Linked DNA regions of Homo sapiens. The protein of the gene in region 2 purifies or fractionates together with the protein of the main gene of each other region. This does not show direct contact. Each region holds a gene or a part of one and is shown on either strand. Other genes may lie near its edges. The genes, in order: ARHGAP45 and SLC25A31.

Region 1 (3,815 bases), on a different chromosome or scaffold from region 2:
TCACCAAGGCAGCTCAGGGCCAGGCCCATGGACTGTGTCCAAACCCCCCTCTCTCTCCAGCCCCGTCAGGGGACCCTCACCCTGCTCAAAGGCTGAAGCCCCGGCTCCACCGTCTGGGTCCACCAGCTCCTCCGTGGACGACATGGTACCACTGGATGACGTCCGCTCGAACTTCTTAAAGTCCCCTGGGCGGGAATCAGGACTGTTCAGACTCCCCCAGCCAGGGGGGCCCCCTCCATCACCCCGGTGGGTGATGAAACCCTGAGGCTCAGGAGAGGAGGCAGCTCCACACCCCAGCCCGCCAGAGAGCCTCCCTCACCTGCGCCAGGGCCGGGGTCCAGCCCACTGTCCGAGTCTGAGATCGAGAGCGGCCATGACTTGTGAACCTGGTGTCCTCGCCCGGCTGGAGAAAGAGGCGTCTCTGGTGAAGGGCCAGGGTGGGTCGCAGGGAGCCAGCGTCCGCCCCTGGGCCCCGCCGGACACTCACCCCTGTGGTCCTTGGCAGGTGTGCCCTCAGTGCACCCGCCTTCTTCTGGGGGGCTCCCGGCAGCCTCCGGCCGCGCCACATCACTCACGTTGAAGCTGCTCTTCCGGGCACGCATGACGGGGGACCTAGTGGAAGAAACCGGGAAAAGGAGGGGAGGTGATGGGGGGCAAGACAGCTTCATCTTCATGCCCCCGACAGAGGGAAGCCCGGCTCCCAGGCAGGGCCTTGTGCGCCGGGGACAGGGCAGCTGGGTGGCGGTACCAGGCGTTGGCGGAGACGTGGGGCTCAAAGTCGTAGTGCACATCGGGCTCCTGGTCCCGCTGCAGCTGGCGCACGTGGGAGGCGTACTGCTGGCCTGGGTCATACAGCTTGCTGCTCTCACACAGCATCTGGAAGTGCACGGGCAGCGGCGCCGTCTGCATATGCATCATCTGGTAGTAGGAGATCGTGGCCTGCGGGCGGCACCGGAGAGCGGAGGGGTCAGGAGGAGGCCGCCCGGTCCACCATCCCCGCCCGGGCGGCCGGAGCACCCCACGCACCGACTTGATGGTTTGGTCGCTCTGCCGGATGACCTCCTGGATCTGCCGCAGCGCCGTCACCTTGGTATCCTCCAGCTCCTGCTTCTGCGTCTTCGCGTCGGCCACGCAGGTGCGGTAGGTGGCCATAGCTTCCTCCGCCTGCGGTGGGGGCGGGGCGCACAGAGAGAGGCCTCAGCCCGGGGTGCAGGACTCAGACAGAAACCTCAGGGAGGCGGGGCTGACGCCTGTCATCCCAGCGCCTCGGGAGGCCACAGTGGGAGACTTGCTTGAGGCCAGGAGTTCGAGACCAGCCTGAGCAACATGGTGAGACCCTCCCCATCTTTTTTTTTTTTTTTTTGAGATGGAGTCTTGCTCTGTAGGCCAGGCTGGAGTGCAGTGGTACGATCTCAGCTCACTGCAACCTCCACCTACCGGGTTCAAGCAATTCTGCCTCAGCCTCCCAAGTAACGGATTACAGGTGCCCCCCACCCACCATACCCGGTTAATTTTTTGTAATTTTAGTAGAGATACAGGGGTTTCACCATGTTGCCCAGGCTGGTTTCGAACTCCTGGCCTCATATGATCTGCCCGTCTCAGCCTCCCAAAGGGCTGGGATTACAGGTGTGAGCCACCACACTCAGCCTGAGACCCCCATCTTTATAAAGAATTTTTTTTTTTTTTTGAGACAGAGTCTCGTTCTGTCGCCCAGGCTGGAGTGCAGTGGCGCGATCTCGGCTCACTGCAAGCTCCACCTCCCGGGTTCATGCCATTTTCCTGCCTCAGCCTCCCGAGTAGCTGGGACTACAGGCGCCCACCACTACGCCCAGCTAATTTTTTGTATTTTTAGTAGAGACGGGGTTTCACCCTGTTAGCCAGGATGGTCTTGATCTCCTGACCTTGTGATCCACCTGCCTCGGCCTCCCAAAGTGCTGGGATTACAGGCGTGAGCCACTGCGCCCGGCCAAGAATTTTTTTAAATTAGCTGGGTGTGGCGGCACACGCCTGTGGTCCCAGCTACTCTAGAGGCTGAGGCGAGAAGATTGCTTGAGCCCAGGAGGTAGAGGCTGCAGTGAGCCATGATCACGTCACTGCACTCCAGCCTGGGTGACAGAACAAGACACTGTCTCAAAAATAATAATAATTTAAAAATCGGGGCCGGGCGCGGTGGCTCATGCCTGTAATCCCAGCACTTTGGGAGGCCGAAGTGGGTGGATCATGAGGTCAGGAGTTTGAGACCAACCTGGCCAAGATGGTGAAACTCTGTGTCTACTAAAAATACAAAAAAATTAGCTGGGCTTGGTGGCAGGGTGGCTGAGGCAGAGAACTGTGTGAACCTGGGAGGCGGAGGTTGCAGTGAGATCTCACCACTGCACTCCAGCCTGGGCAACAGAATGAGACTCTGTCTCCAAAAAACAAATTGGCCGGGCGCAGTGGCTCATGCCTATAATCCCAGCACTTTGGGAGGCCGAGGTGGACGGATCACGAGGTCAGGAGATCGAGACCATCCTGGCTAACACAGTGAAACCCCGTCTCTACTAAAAATACAAAAAATTAGCCAGGCGTGGTGGCGGGCGCCTGTAGTCCCAGCTACTCGGGAGGCTGAGGCAGGAGAATGGCGTGAACCCGGGAGGCGGAGCTTGCAGTGAGCCGAGACTGTGCCACTGCACTCCAGCCTGGGCGACAGAGCAAGACTCCGTCTCAAAAACAAACAAAAAAACAAAAAAACAAAAACAAAGGTCTGGAGGTAGTAAATGTCACACCAAGCATTGGATCTCCTCCTCCAGGGACCTCCAGCCCTGCCTCCACCCGCCCTCACCTTGTTCTTGGCCTCCTCCTCCAGCCGCCGCCGCTTGTCCAGGGTCTTGGTGGCCGTGCTGCCTGCTCCCGGCGCGCTGCCAGCCTGCTCCTCCTCCGCCTTGGCCACGAGGAAGCGAGCCTTGTCGTGGTCCTCGCAGCGCTGCACGTAACCCTGCTTGGCCTTGCGCAGGTTGGACTCCGCCTCTTGCTGTGGGTGTGGGAGCCAGGAGGCCAGTTCCAACCCTATCCTCGGATGGGACTCAGTCTCCCCAGCTCCTCCTTTCCTCCCCACCCCCATCTCTCTCAGCAAGGCCCCATGGCCCAGCTGGGCATGCAGAGGACCCTGCACAACAATCGGCAGCGGAAAAACAGGAGGAGTGGCCGGGCGCGGTGGCTCACGTCTGTAATCCCAGCACTTTGGGAGGCCGAGGCAGGTGGATCACTTGAGGTCAGGAGTTTGAGACCAGCCTGGCCAACATAGTGAAACCCCGTATCTACCCAAAATTTAAAACAATTAGCCGGGCATTGTGGTGCACGCTTGTAATCCCAGCTACTCGGGAGGCTGAGGCACTAGAATCGCGAACAGCTTGAACCCAGGAGGCGAAGGTTGCAGTGAGCCAAGATTGCATGCACCACTGCACTCCAGCCTGGGCAACAGAGATTCCAGCTCAAAAAAAAAAAAAAAAAAAAGAACGGGAGGAGGCACCCGTAACAGGACACTCGGAGAAATGGGTGTCCTGTGTGCCCACTCTGCAGCCCGGGAAGCTGAGGTGCAGCCAAGCTCTGCACAGAGGCTCACACGGCAGCCTCTGCAGACACGCACACCAGCCCCCACGGGAGCGTCTCCGGGCTCTTTTGCTTTCACTTCCCTCCTCACAGACGAGAACAGAGAAGCCGCCCAGGCAGGAAGCCAGGCGCCCACAGGTTGGCAGGAAGAGCACTTAGTCAAAAACCTGTGGGCTCGGGGGCCACACCTCACAACCTGCACCATCAGATTCGCACACAAACAAACG
Region 2 (3,815 bases):
AACGGGGCCAGTTGTGTGACCGCTGCAATCACTCAAACACTGAAAAAAGACTCACATAAAGATATTTTATTGTGAAATATAAGATCATCAGGGATAGAAAGAAACTAAAAAGAAAAAACATATACTAAAGGATCCGGAGTAAGCAAATTGGTATCTTAAGAGCAACATTAGAAACTAGAAGTCAGGGTAATATTTTCGTAATTGTGAAGGAAAATAATTTTAAACTCAGACTTTCATATATGTCTTACCCTTTTTGAGAGGGTAAGACAAACACTTTTTTTAAGATATGTAAGAGCTCAATTTATTTTTTTTCACTCTTTCTCAAAAAGTTACCAAAGAATATACTCTACCAAAAAACAAGGGTGTAATAACAAAAAAGGGAAGATGTGATATTTAAGTAAGGATAGAGGCAAAGGGACTCCCTAGGATGAGATTTGTGCATCTAACCTAGAAGGGAGCCACAGCTGAGACAGGACTAAGTGCATGGAAAAAAATCTAGGAAGGGCTTTCTAGGAAAAAAAAATGGGACTAAGTTATAAGCAATTTTTATGTTCACTTTTTTTGTTACAACAGGCTTTCCCTCCTTCCCTTTTTTAAGGGAAAAGAAGCAAGTAATATACTTTAGGCCCTATGACTCCACCATTTGGTTGAGAACAAAGTTCGTAGACTTTATCTGGTAACACTATTATAGCACAATTAATGCCAATAAATAACAGATGGTTCAAAATGCAAAGAAGGAAAAGTTAGTATTTCTAAAAATCTCATACCTTTTCCAATATCGACACCTAATCGGGTTCGGGCAAAATCTAGAGGATATACTACACATAAGGATGTTGCCCCAGCAGCTCCACCAGAAGCCAGGTTTGCCAAAAACCACCTCCAGAACTGAAACATATTAATTTAAAAGTGGTTATTAAACCACAGAATCTAACTGTTTAAAATACCTGGTAAATTCTTATTTTTATAAATGTTAAAACACCAGATTTATAAGCCACTTTTATAAAGTAAACATCTATAATAATGCATACCATGCTATCCAAAATATTTTATTTTTATAGCCATATAGCTTTTGTTTCATGCAGTCTGGAAGACACAGTTTAGATGCTGACATACTGAAATTCCAGGATATTTTAATGTTCTCCAGCAAAGCAGCCCAAATTAGCAAAAGAGGTCGCATAATCATCTCTTTACGCTGTATACTTTTTTTTTTCCTTAATAGCTACATAATTCTTAATAATAGTGCTTGCTATGATTACAATGTCAGGCACATATGGAGGCTTTAGTTGTGCCCTTTTTCTGTGAAGGGTGAAGTAAGTAGTATTATGGCAAAAAACTGCAATTACTTTTTGCACCAACCTAAAATACTTCACAATGCCCCAGCTTCACTTTGTAATTTAAATAGAATTAAATTTGAATAGCTCAAAAATACGTATTTAATTATGTTCAAATGACAACATGGAGATTGGCAGACATCAATCATAATGTAGTTGTATGGCATTTAAGTTAGGCCTCACTGGTCTACTAGTTCACATGAGCTATTGAAGAAGTATAATTACTTTTGATCAACATTTAAAATGTGCCCTCCCCAGGTTCAGCAAGATGCTTTTCAACATCTAGTGCTTATGCGAGAAGAAAGGAGTATCTGAATTGGAGCTGTTATGAAAAATCCAGGATACGAGGCCACTGCAAGCACTTAATACATTAAAGTGAATAATATGCTAGTCAAGCTCAATTTCTTGCTTTATTTTCTGGTTTTTATTTCTAACAATAAAGTGTCAGACAGCTTTGCAATTCTCAATGTTCTCTAGCCCTGGAATGCTCTTCCTTTTTTAAACAAAAAAATAGTTATTGCTTCATGCTCTAATTCAAGTTCTACTTCTTTCATGAAATATCTGATCTCCAACCCATCTATTGAAACTGTATATGATCATACCCTCTTCCCATAAATACTTCATCTCTGTCAGAGAATTAAAGTTGAATCCCATGACCAATACATAAAATGTATTAACATGTTATAGACTCTTTTTTTTTCTGAGATGGAGTCTAGCTCTGTCACCCAAGCTGGAGTGCAGTGGCGCGATCTCGACTCACTGCACAGACTCTTATTTTTTAAATATCACTTACAACCATTTTCTACTTTCAATTTATAATTATTTGTGTACATTTATACTCCTACAGACTATAAATTTCTTTTTTTTTTTTTTGAGACAGAGTCTCGCTCTGTCGCCCAGGCTGGAGTGCAGTGGCGAGATCTTGGCTCACTGCAAGCTCTGCCTCCTGGGTTCACGCCATTCTCCTGCCTCAGCCTCCTGAGTAGCTGGGACTACAGGCGCCCGCCACCACGCCCAGATAATTTTCTTGTATTTTTTTTTTAGTAGAGATGGGGTTTCACTGTGTTAGCCAGGATGGTTTCCATCTCCTGACCTCGTGATCCGCCTGCCTAGGCCTCCCAAAGTGCTGGGATTACAGGTGTGAGCCACTGCGCCCGGCCCAGACTATAAATTTCTTGAGGCCAGCATTATTTTTCCTTAACAGCTTTACTAAGTATAATTCACATATCATAAAATTCACCTATGTAAAGCGTACAATTCAATTGTTAATATATTCACAGAGTTGTGCAACCATCACCACAGCTTAGAATATTTTCATCACACCAAAAAGAAACCCCAGGCCTGTTATAAGTCACTCCACATCCTCCCTACCTCCTTAAGTCCTAGGCAACCATTAAACTACTTTCTGTCTCTATATATTTGCTTATCCTGGACATTTCATATAAATGGAATCACATAAGACACACTCTTTTTTGACTGGTTTCCTTCATTTAGCATGTTTTCAAGGTTCATCCATGTTGCAGTACATATTAATACTTCATTCCTTTTTATTGCCAAATAATATTCTATTTTATGAACATTATCTACTCATCAGCTGATGAACATTTGGGTTGTTTCCATTTGTTTGAGGCCAAGATTCTTAATTCCTCTGTTTATTTCACAGAGCAAGTCAGGAGGTCTTGCCCAGAGATATGTATTAAATAAGTATTTGTTTAATAAAGTGTACTGGTAATGCCACTTACTGTTCCCAGACTCCCATGGATCTTTTTAAGTAACACTCATCAGTTTTATTGTATAAGCAGCATGTCTCATCATACAGAAATAATTAGATCAGGAGATTGCATCTGACATAAGGGTAGTTAATCCACAGTGTAGTAGATGATTGGTAACCTGGTAGAAAAAGATGAGCTGGGCCAGAGCCTCTTTCTTGGGAACTGAACTTTAAATATTCAATACTAGTTATCAATAAGGACAGAAAAGGAAAAGTTAATGTCTTAGACTTTTTGGAGACTGTTTAAAGCTATAGATCCTCTCCTAAGAAAAATTACACATGTATGAACATATATTTTTAGAGTGTGGGGTATTCTGGAAGCATTCACGGATCCCAGGTTAAGAACCTCTGACCTTTAGAAAGGCCAAAAAGGATTACTATGGTACAAATATTGAATTTAAAGGAATAAGAAAATATCAGTAAGTAAAAAAAGTAGGCAATAATGAGAAAACAGAGCAAACACACACACTAAAAGCAGGTAATTAGAGAGAAAGAACAGGTGACTTGGGAGAGAAAGATGAGAGTATAGTTTGGTCCGTAGAGGTGCCTGTGGCTGAAATTCAAGTGCCACTGTATCATTACAATAAATCATCTTTTTCCTGAGGTAATCTGAGTTAATCTCTGCTTATGAAAACCAAGCACATCAACCAAACAAAATATGTGGCATAAAGATTTATAAAGTAGATCTTAAGTTCTACTTAATCTTTTTTTCT

Evidence for each region.
Region 1: the proteins of SLC25A31 (region 2) and ARHGAP45 purify together in Homo sapiens (co-immunoprecipitation; one large-scale study listed by IntAct). This does not show direct contact.

What each region holds. Positions count from the first base shown.
Region 1 is NC_000019.10:1,077,052-1,080,866, reverse strand, and holds part of ARHGAP45 (rho GTPase-activating protein 45 isoform 1 precursor), read right to left. Parts: intron 3,472-3,815; exon of another isoform or gene 3,101-3,471; coding exon of another isoform or gene 3,011-3,100; coding exon 2,822-3,010; intron 1,165-2,821; coding exon 1,027-1,164; intron 940-1,026; coding exon 749-939; intron 613-748; coding exon 488-612; coding exon of another isoform or gene 404-487; coding exon 320-403; intron 186-319; coding exon 81-185; intron 1-80. UniProt on the Homo sapiens protein: Contains a GTPase activator for the Rho-type GTPases (RhoGAP) domain that would be able to negatively regulate the actin cytoskeleton as well as cell spreading.
Region 2 is NC_000004.12:127,761,313-127,765,127, reverse strand, and holds part of SLC25A31 (ADP/ATP translocase 4), read right to left. Parts: intron 1,799-3,815; exon of another isoform or gene 1,590-1,798; intron 886-1,589; coding exon 768-885; intron 1-767. UniProt on the Homo sapiens protein: ADP:ATP antiporter that mediates import of ADP into the mitochondrial matrix for ATP synthesis, and export of ATP out to fuel the cell.